2 linked regions of the Homo sapiens genome follow. The protein of the gene in region 2 interacts with the protein of the main gene of each other region in a biochemical or structural test. Each region holds a gene or a part of one and is shown on either strand. Other genes may lie near its edges. The genes, in order: PC and GOT1.

What was found.
Region 1: the proteins of GOT1 (region 2) and PC form a complex in vitro, tested with the Homo sapiens proteins (one study listed by BioGRID).

What each region holds. Positions count from the first base shown.
Region 1 is NC_000011.10:66,948,144-66,955,439, forward strand, and holds part of PC (pyruvate carboxylase, mitochondrial precursor), read right to left. Parts: intron 6,294-7,296; 5' UTR 6,106-6,293; intron 4,326-6,105; 5' UTR 4,287-4,325; intron 1-4,286. UniProt on the Homo sapiens protein: Pyruvate carboxylase catalyzes a 2-step reaction, involving the ATP-dependent carboxylation of the covalently attached biotin in the first step and the transfer of the carboxyl group to pyruvate in the second.
Region 2 is NC_000010.11:99,396,279-99,399,829, forward strand, and holds the end of GOT1 (aspartate aminotransferase, cytoplasmic), read right to left. Parts: intron 1,409-3,551; coding exon 1,269-1,408; 3' UTR 592-1,268; downstream 1-591. UniProt on the Homo sapiens protein: Biosynthesis of L-glutamate from L-aspartate or L-cysteine. Important regulator of levels of glutamate, the major excitatory neurotransmitter of the vertebrate central nervous system. Acts as a scavenger of glutamate in brain neuroprotection.

The sequences.
Region 1 (7,296 bases), on a different chromosome or scaffold from region 2:
CTGCAGTGAGCTATGATCACGCCGCTATATTCCAGCTTGGGTGACAGAGCAAGACTCTGTCTTAAAAAAAAAAAAAAGAAGGAAATGAACTATCAATACAAGCAACAACATGGACATATCTCAACATAATTATGCTGAGTAAAAGAAGGCAGAGAAAAAAGAATATATACTGTATGAGTCAATTTATGTGAAATTCCAGAAAATGGAAACTAACCTATAGTAACAGAAAGCAGTTCCATGGTTTCCTGAAGAGTGAGGAGGCAGAGGGAGGAATTCCAAAGGTGATGAATGTGTTCACTCTCTGGACTGCAGTGATGGTTTCACAAGGGTACACATATGTTAAAACTTACTAAACTGTATACTTTAAATATGTGCAACTTATTATATCTCAGTAATACTCCAATAAAGCTATTGTAAAAACTAAAATGTATCACGCCTGTAATCCCAGCACTTTGGGAGGCCAAGGCGGGCTGATTGCTTGAGCTCAGGAGTTCGAGATGAGCCTGGGCAATGTGGTGAAACCCCGTCTCCACAAAAAGTACAAAAATTAGCCGGGTGTGGTGGCTTGAACCTGTAGTCCCAGCTACTCAGGAGTCTGAAAAGGGAAGATCACCTGAGCCTAGGAGGTAGAGGTTGCAGTGAGCTGAGACTGTGCCACTGTACTCCAGCCTGAGTGACAGAATCAGACCGTCTCAAAATAAACAAAAATAAACAAACAAAACATAAAACGGTATAGGAAAGTTTAAGAAAAGTGTAATATTCAGCTTCATTTATTAGATTTACAAGAGTCATTTAGGTATTAGAGGGTTTTTTTAATCAGAAAAATGGAAGAATTATTATTATTATTTATTATTATTATTATTTTTTTGAGATGGAGTCTTGCTGTGTCGCCAGGCTGGAGTGCAGTGGCATAATCTCAGCTCACTGCAACCTCCGCCTCCCGGGTTCAAGCGATTCTCCTGCCTCAGCCTCCCAAGTAGCTGGGATTACAGGCGCGTGACCACCACACCCAGCTAATTTTTGTATTTTTAGTAGCGACAGGGTTTCACCATGTTGGCCAGGATGGTCTCAATCTCTTGACCTCGTGATCTGCCCGCCTTGGCCTCCCAAAGTGCTAGGATTACAGGCGTGAGCCACCCACCATGCCCGGCCAGAAGAATTATTAAAATAGTTAACTGAAGTTGAATATGATTTATAAGTTCAATTGAAACATTTCAGAAGTTTCATCAAATTTGCAAATGGGACCAAGCATTAATCAAAAAGCCCCCTAAGGCCGGGGCGGCGGCTCACGCCTGTAATCCCAGCACTTTGGGAGGCCGAGGCGGGCAGATCACTTGAGTCAGGAGTTCGAGACCAGCCTGACCAACATGAAGAAACCCCGCCTCTACTAAAAATACAAATTAGCCAGCATGGTGGCGGGCGCCTGTAATCCCAGCTACTCAGGAGGCTGAGGCAGAAGAATCGCTTGAACCAGGAGGCGGAGGTTGCAGTGAGCCGAGATCGCGACAGAGCGAGACTCCATCGCAAAAAAAATAAATAAATAAAAGCCCCCTGAAAGTGACTGTTAAAATGTCCTAGAATCGTAAATAGATCAGAAAGATTTATAGGCTACACTTATAAGCTAAACTTAAAAGACTGGCCCTTAAAATAACTAGGTTTCTGAATTCATAATTTTAACAAATTGAAAATCAATTGTTTTCGACCAAAGTAATTTCTGAATAATCTTTGCATTACATAAAAATCCAGGGGTAGGAGTGGGTGTGGCATCCAAACCTCCCTCAGACATGCCACGCACCAGTCACCCGAAACTCACCAAGTCGCTTAGTCTCTAGTCTCTCTGAACCTCTGGTTCCTCACACATTGCAAGAGACAAATATTTTCCAGAATAAATAATATACTTATTATTAATGATTTAATATTAATACATTTCACATTGATACACAGCATGTACATGAGAAGAGGCTCCAAAGCAGCATAAAGTGATGTGCAAACGTAATAAATGGGCAGCATGTGTCACTTCATAGTAACTGCAGCACTCAGTGACAGACAAGAGAAAGGTGACACACATCCCCAGAGACTAAGTATGACTCAGCATGGCCAGGTCGTGGAATTTTCCCAAAGCCTCGTTGTGATGTCATGGTGGATGTCATCAGGAAAGGAGCTGCCACAGAAGCAGTCAGGCCCTTCCACACACAGGCAGTGGAAATGTACTCCCAGCTGTCCCGTGCCCTCCCGGCCCCACCTCTTTCTCTGGCCTCGAGGCATATCAGGACAAGGAGGTAACACAAGAGTAGGAAACCCGAGGTAGTGCTGGGAGTACCTGGGGTAACGCCTTCAGGCATAACACTTAACAACACAACAAAGGGCCACATCCATGTCCCCCCAGGAGAAAGCTGAAGAGGAGGGGAGGGTGACAAGCTTAGACTACAGAGCCTTAGTCCCTAGGCAAAGCTCAAGTCAGCAGTGCCTTGGGAACTGAGGAGCCAAACAAGCTTTGACAAATTACATAACCTGGAAGAAGAGGTCCCTTCTTGGTGACTGATTTTCCCTCTCTATTGATGGATCTAAGGGAAGACATCAATAAAATATGGCAATTTTAAAAGAAGAATAAACAATGGGATCAGCATCTTGGATTCTGCTAAGCAGCCTTCTCTAGGCTTCAGTTTCTTCAGTTCCATAAGACAAGTGGTTTGGGGGGAACCTTCCCCAACATGCCCACCTCTCATTGTAGGGATGCAAGTAAGAGAAATAACATCCAACTCTAGCAGCCAAGAATAAGAGGACAGAGCAAGCAGAGAGAGAACAAGGGGGTGAAACTCGTGGAGGGTGGAGTTCTTCCACGTTACGGCCATTCCCACCATGAGCCCATTGCCCTTACTCAATGGTAGCACGCAGACGGCACCTGCTGGCCCAAGACCTAGCTCCAAGGGAGGACTGCGGGAAATCTCACACAGGAAACCAGCTCCTGCGTCATGAAGGGTCGTCAGAGGAAAACCCCCACATAATGGGTGGAAAACCGAGAAAAACTCCTATACCAAGGAATCCCCACTCAGCACTGGATATGAGCTCTGGAGAAAGTTGTCCCTGAGCCACAAAGTCCCCAAGGCCACAGCGGGCCTGAAGGGAAGAGCATTATTGTTGTCACAAATGCTGGGAGAGCACCTGGTTCCCTGGCTCGGCTGCTCCTGCAGACCAGCAGGGGGAGAGGGGACTGGACTAGCAGGGGACCGGCGGGAGGGCTGTGGAATTTAGGCTGAGGGGAGGCCACTGAATCTCCCAGGCACCTGCCACCATGGAAATCCATGTTGGGGGAACTGTAAAAGCAGTAGAGGCCGGACGCGCTGGCTCACACCTGTAATCCCAGCATCTGGGGAGGCCGAAGAGGGCGGATCACCTGAGGTCAGGAGTTCGAGACCAGCCTGACCAACATGGTAAAATCCCATCTCTACTAAAAATACAAAAATTAGGCCGGGCACAGTGGTTCATGCCTGTAATCCCAGCACTTTGAGGGGCTGAGGTGGGTGGATCACAAGATCAAGAGATTGAGACCATCCTGGCCAACATGGTAAAACCCCGTCTCTACTAAAAATACAAAAATTAGCTGGGCATGGCAGCACACACCTGTAGTCCCAGCTACTCGGGAGGCTGAGGCAGGAGAATTGCTTGAACCCAGGAGGCAGAGGTTGCAGTAAGCCGAGCTTGCGCCACTGCACTCCAGCCTGGCAACAGAGCAAGACTCCGTCTCAAAAAAAAAAAAGAAAAAAAAAAACTTAGCCAGGTGTGGTGGCACATGCCTGTAAAATGTGCAGGGGAAGAAGGGCAGGTCCCTTTTTCCCCGTTGTTACCGTGACTGGCAAAGGTTGAGCGTCACCCTCTGGAAACCCGTGTCAAGTGACTTTACAACCAGCTGGCAGAACCACCTCACACCACAGCTGCCTGCTCTCCATGCTGACTCAAGGGGTCTTCTCAGAGACGGCCCAGCCCCAGGGATTCTTCCTGCCCAGCTTCCCAAGCTGACCATACCCTTCCAGAACCAGGGCCTTCTGCTGAGGCTGGCCAGCTGCCAAATGGGGCCAGCAGGGAGCCAGATGTCACTTTCCTGTAAAAATCAGGAGCAACTGGAAACAGACAAGACTGCTTAAACGGATATTATCCACAAATCAGAGCGCAGCCTTTTTTTATTGATTGAGCTTAAGACCTGACATGCCAAACTGCTGGCATCCACAGCTGCTCCTGGTGAAGACCCCCATGCATCCCGCCAGCCTGGATTCAGGCACAGGACTTACCCTTAGTGTTTGGTCAGCTCTCCAGAAGGCAGACACTATCTAAAGCAAAAGAAAAAACAGCATTACCCTCATTGCTCCAGGAACTTCCCAGAGAAAACAGGAGTGGCAAGAACACCGATTTTAGAACCCAGAGAACTTTTTCAGTCTTGTTACCCGGGCTGGAGTGCAATGGCGCAATCCCGGCTCACTGCAACCTCTGCTTCCCGGATTCAAGCGATTCTCCTGCCTCAGCCTCCTGAGGTAGTTGGGATTACAGGCATGTGCCACCACGCCCAGCTAATTTGGTATTTTTAGTAGAGATGGGGGTTTCTCCATGTTGGTCAGGCTGGTCTCGAACTCCCGACCTCAGGTGATCCACCCACCTCGGCCTCCCAAAGTGCTGGGATTACAGGTGTGAGCCACCGCACCCGGCCAAGAACTGTTTCTTTGCTTCCACTGAGGGCACCAGGAGGGTACAGAGCTGGAAGCGCCAGCTGTGCTGTCCCACTGCCTGGACTGCACCTCTTGTTACTCTGACAGCCGCTCTGTAATCACTCAAAGTCTGTTTCCTCATCTGTAAAATGGGAATAATAACAATGCCCATCTCACAGCGTACTAGGGAATACCCAATGAGGCAGCACACGCACAGCAGTGGCACCATGCCTGGCACAGAGGACACACTGGGACGTTAACCGACAGGCTAGGTGGGAAGCGCTTAAGTAAAACCCTTTTCTGCCACCCACTACACATGAACAAGAAGTTCTAGAAACAGTTCGTTTTATCTGAAGTGCTTTCTCTTCCTGCCCACTCCGTCCAGCCTCAGGCCCGCTTTCTCTGCATCTCCGCAGAGCTGTCTCTAATCCTTCAGGAGCTCCCTCTGAATACTGGGAGTCTGGTTCTTCTCTCACTCCACAACTTGAAACTAATAAGGAGCTGTCTTACGTGACCTGAGATGTGTACTCTATTTCCTGGCTATTTCCTCAAATCCTTTCCTGCAGAGACCCCTCTCTGCCATAAGTAAGAGCCCACCTCGTGTTTATGCCCATGGGAGCCCACAGTTGGTATTGTGTAATCACTTTTCGGAGTTTTATTGACTGCTTATTTCCGAAAAAGCCACACCTACCCTAGCCACTAGTCAATGAACAGCAAAATGGAAAAACAGGCCAGCAAGCTCAAATCCCTGTTCAGAGAAAACCAGCTGCCTTGACAGATAACGTCAAGGCTGAAATTCAATGTCTGGGGCACTCAAGTCAATAAAATATTTATTGAGCACATGCCTTGCACAAGGAACTGTATGTACACTCAGGCCCTGCCCACAAAGTGCCAAAAAGCAAGTTGTTAGGGGCTGGTTAAAAGAAGCAAAAATGGGATGGCACGTGAGAGGGACTCCAGCAGTGAGCCACCTAGCCTGCCTGGCTGTGTTACTCTGGGCGTTATTTCACCTCTCTGAGTTTCACCTATGAGAGTCCGTCATTTGTAAGAGATGGATCTAATAGGACCTTCGTAATAGGATTGTTGTGATAATCACATTATGTGTATGTAAGGGGCTTAGCAAGGCCGTCACCACCACACAGTAGTTGACTTTTATTATTAATAACAATAAATCATTACTTATCATCATCGTTATGAAAAGAGAGCCCAGTCCAACTGAATAGATTTGGCAAGCCTTAATAAAGTCCTGTGTCTCGAAGAATAATTTAATTTTGACAGGACAAGATAAGAAGCAAGGCCCTGCAGAAAACAAAGTCAACAAGAACAAGAGCAGAGGGGGGACCGTGAGAAGTGAGTTTGGGGTAACAGTGACTAATCTCACTATGGGGGCTGACACAGAAGAGGGTACCTGCGGAGGCAAATGGAAGAAAGAGCCCAACAGGTGGAATCATATTAGAGAGTCTTGAACGCCAAGATGAAGCAAGCTTTTCATTCGGTAAGTAAGAGGAAATGGTTTATTCTTTTGGCCATTTCCCATCTTCCACCGTCAGGCCCGACTCCTTTGGCAAAGTGTCCACAGGTGAGACTAGAAGGCAGCTAAGAGAAAGAGAGGAAGGCACGGTCAGTCAGGCCCAGGTGAGGTTTCAGAGTGAGCAGGCAAAATGCCCTGCTGCTGTGAAGGAGGCCTCTGGGTGAGAAACCTGCCCCAAAGCAGGAACTTTCAGGATACAAGAAACGGGGCCCATTCAGATGGGGGCAGGACGATATTGGGAGGCAGCCAAAGAGAAGGCCATGCTCATCCTCAATGAAAATGTTGACCAGAGGCCGGGTGCAGTGGCTCACGCCTGTAATCCCAGCACTTTGGGAGGCCAAGGCAGGTGATCACCTGAAGTCAGGAGTTCGAGACCAGCCTGCCCAACATAGTGAAACCCCATCTCTACTAAAGATACAAAAATTAGCCAGGCAAAGGGTTGGTGCCTGTAATCCCAGCTACTCAGGAGGCTGAGGCAGGAGAATCACTTGAATCCGGGAGGCAGAGGCTGCAGTGAGCCAAGATGGTGCCACTGTACTGCAGCCTGGGCAACAAAACAAGACTCCGTCTCCAAAAAAAAAAAAACACAGAAAACGTTGACCTGAACGAGGCCTCCAGCCCATGCAGAAGGTGCCAGTGAGAAATGTGGATTGCCAGATTTACTGCCATACTGACCTTGGTGCTGGCCATCCCTGCCACCTCCAAAAGTAACTCCTTTCCGTATTCCCCATCTTGCACCCTTCTCTCCTCACTGGTTCCCAGTTTGACCCCTTTTCAACTAATTCACCCAAAACACTCATTAGGCACCTACTTGTTCCTGGCACTATTAGGTACTGAGAGGACAGAGGGAAGAGGGACACAGGGAACTGTGGCTTGGGATAAGAGTAGTGAATCTGAGGTCCTGCCCTGCCACTGGTCCCAGAGCCCCCATGAGTGGTGGTGGGAGGACAGGTACCTATCACAGTGCCTGGGGCACTGGAAGTGAGACCGGGTGAAAGCAAGGAGCAGGACAAAAAAGGGAAAAGGGCCTGGGGGACCTACTGTGGGCTACCAGGGACAACCTTCTAG
Region 2 (3,551 bases):
GATGAGTCAGAGACAATATGGAGAGACTATTTCACTGGCGGAGAGGCAGGACTTGATGACTTCTGAGGCCCCAGTCATCCCTCAGGACTGCAGGATTTTCTAACAACCCAAATGAGTCCTAGAAAGTGGCAGATCCTATTAAAATCACAAGAATTAACTTTAAATACTTAAAAACTCCAATTAATAGACCTCTTGTGTTAAGTAACATCAAACCCCACCAAATTCTACAAAATGGCCATTTGGAGCGGCCCTTGGACTCTGGAAATTGTGATGTATGTTTTTGTGGTTCTGTTTCAATAAACCAGGAGGGACTCTGACAGCAGGGAACGGGCTGATGTTCTATAATCAACCTGAGTGATGTCATCTCCTCTCACAGTCCAAGAAGTCCAGTTTCTTAAGTAACATAAGACAGCTGGCCTCCAAATGACAAGCCCGCAAAATCACCAGGGAGTTATATGGTGAGTTCACTGAAGGAAGCTATACTGTAAGAACACATTGTAGTTTTTCCTTTAGCCACTAGTAAAACCCTCTAAAGCATTCATTTTAAACTGTGGGTCACAACCCATTAGTGGTCATAAAATCAACTCCATGTCTTGATCAACATTTTTATTTTATTTTTTTAGGTGAAGTAGAACACAATAGAATGGCTCAAAAATATCAGAATGCACTACGCACATCACGAGTAAATACTGTTTGGTAAAACTTGTTTCAGTTAAATATGTACGTGTCCGTGCATGTCATGATTAAATATCCTTCTTACCACAGTCACCCTAAAGAACCAAAGCTTAGGACTAGGGACACAACCATGCAGAAAGAGCAGGGAGACCAGACACTCTGGGTTGAGATGATGAATTTAATGCCGCAGCCGACACCCACATTCACACTTTGGCTCCTTCAGACAACTTGATCTTTGGGACTAGAATTTGTACAGAGTCAAACACCACATAGAAGCACGTGGCCGCCACACACAACACTCCTTTTTAGTGAGAGGGACAAGATACCTATGTCTCATGATCAAAGTACTCTTTTATTCTTAAATAAAAATCTTAATTTGCTTTGACCTCCAAAGGCTCTAATCCCAGTCTCCAAATTCGTCTCAAGGGATGTTCTCTTCATGTGGGGCCGGTTTAAACAGAGGCTGCCTCACCAGAGCAGCCTTTCAGTCCTGCAAGTGTCTCTAATCCATGGTATGTACATGTAGGTTTGTGCAGGCAGGGAACACACATGACAGAGAACTACTTTGGTGGTACTGGACGGGTGGTGTTTCTTCACTGGATTTTGGTGACTGCTTCATGGATGGAGGTGGCCACGTAATCTAGATTTTTGGTGGTTAAGCCACTCACGTTGATTCGACCACTTGGCAGCAGGTAGATGTGCTTTTCATTGACCAGATACTCAACCTGCTTGGCTGTTGAAAACCAAAAGAAGACATAATCAGAGCAGAGGGGATCCTTAAAGCAGTGGAGGCTCAGCAATTATATGACAATTACAGCTTTACTTCTTTCCCCTTAACAGAGAGAAGCAAAACAAAAGGCGCTATTTTGTCCAACTGACAAACAGAAAAATATGCTCACTAGATTCTGGAAAGTACTCTTACTAGTTCACCTTTGAATCCCCAGAAAATTCAATATGGCTACTACTGATGGGAATTTTAATCTGAGATTGCCTTCCAACCAAGCCTTATACATTATATCCACCAGGACACCCCTATCACCTAAAAACAACCATCAGACGGACAGCGATATGAAATGCTGGCTATGAAGTGCTTCCTTTAGTTCTTCCCTAACCTGGACTTGCATTGAGTACCCGCGGCAGCCTCCCTTTGACATTTCATTTTTACAATACATTGGGTAAGGCCCCATGCATGAGGTACCTGATCAATCCTGTGTGAATTAACCAATGAGCTGAGAAATGACACAGACCTCTCTGACCTGGCACCATCAGACTTCTGTTCATTTCTCAGCTTTCTCTCAGATGCAGTAGTTTTTCCATGTTTTCAGAAATGCATCACATGTGGGTAAGAAGAGACTACCTGTACTTCCTTTATACAGCAGTCTCTAAAGCAGTTTTGCTATTTGGCAAATCCATTGATAGAATTTTAGTGAATTTGGCTGGGCACAGTGGTTCACGCCTGTGATCCCAGCACTTCAGGAGGCTGAGGCTGGTGGATTACCTGAGGTCAGAAGTTTGAGACCAGCCTGGCCAACATGCTGAGACCCAGTCTCTACTAAAAATACAAAAATTAGCCAGGCGTGGTGGCATGTGCCTATGGTCCCAGCTACTCAGGAGGCTGAGGCAGGAGAATTGCTTGAAACCCAAGAGGAGGAAGTTGCAGTGAGCCGAGATCACACCACTGCACTCCAGCCTGGGTGACAGAGTGAGACTCTGTCTCAAAAAAAAAAAGAATTTTAGTGAATTATTGCTTAAGTAATTAGTACCTTTAAGATACCACCAACCTGAGGAAATGGAATAATAATAGAATCATCATAATCAGAGGAGTAAACACTATGTGCCAGGCAGTGTTCTAAGCACTGCATCTTAGTTCATCCTGATAATAACTTTATCATGCCCATTTTACAGATAGGCCATAAAGACATTAAATGGCCTTCCGAGATTGCACAGCTGGTCAATGGTGGATGTGGGATTTTCAGGCAGGATTTCAAGTCTGGGCTGTACACTGCCCCCGTGATGCTACAGTGCCTCTCTAAGGAAGTGAAAAATCTGGACCCTGGACTCAGTGCTCCTTGAAGGAAACCAAAATAGTTCACCCCAAAATATACTTTGACATATTTTGAGATGGCTGTTGAGAGGGCCTACATACAGAAGTAGCCCTGCAAAGCTGTCTTTTGTGGGAGAGATCTGTATCTGTAGAGAAAATCTGCATGGCTGCAGCTAGGCTTTCTCTGAGGCCCTCCCTTGTCCAGATCTAGGGGAGATTAACTGAGAGTGTGATGCCTTTAAAGGTCTAAAAGAAATAGACCTTTACCGCTATTTTCTCCGAGGGCTGCTACCTGTCTTATCTACATAATATAACAAGACCACCTTTGCTAACCAGGCCTTCTCTTCTCTGCCTGCCATAATCTGTTCTGGCAAGCTCCAAGCTCCCATTCTTTCTATAACCCCAAGATGGTATAAAAGCATCAATCATCTGGCCATTTATTTGAGTTCTATTTTGTAAGACACCTGTGCAAGTTAATAAATTTGCATGCTGGCCAGGCACAGTGGCTCATGCCTGTAATCCAAGTACTTTGGGAGGCTGAGGAGGGAGGATTGCTTGAGCCCAGGAGTTGACGACCAGCCTGGGCATCATAAGGAGACCCTGTCTCTACAAAAAAATCTTAAAAATTAGCCGGGCATGGTGGCACACACCTGTGGTCCCAGGTACTACGAAGGCTGAGGTGGGTGGATTGCTTGGGCCTGGGAGGTTGAGGCTACAGTAAGCCATGATTGTGACGCCGCACTCCAGCCTGGGCAACAGAGTGAGACTCTGACTCAAAAATAAATAAATAAATTTGTATGCCTTTTCTCCTATTAATCTGCCTCTTGTCAGC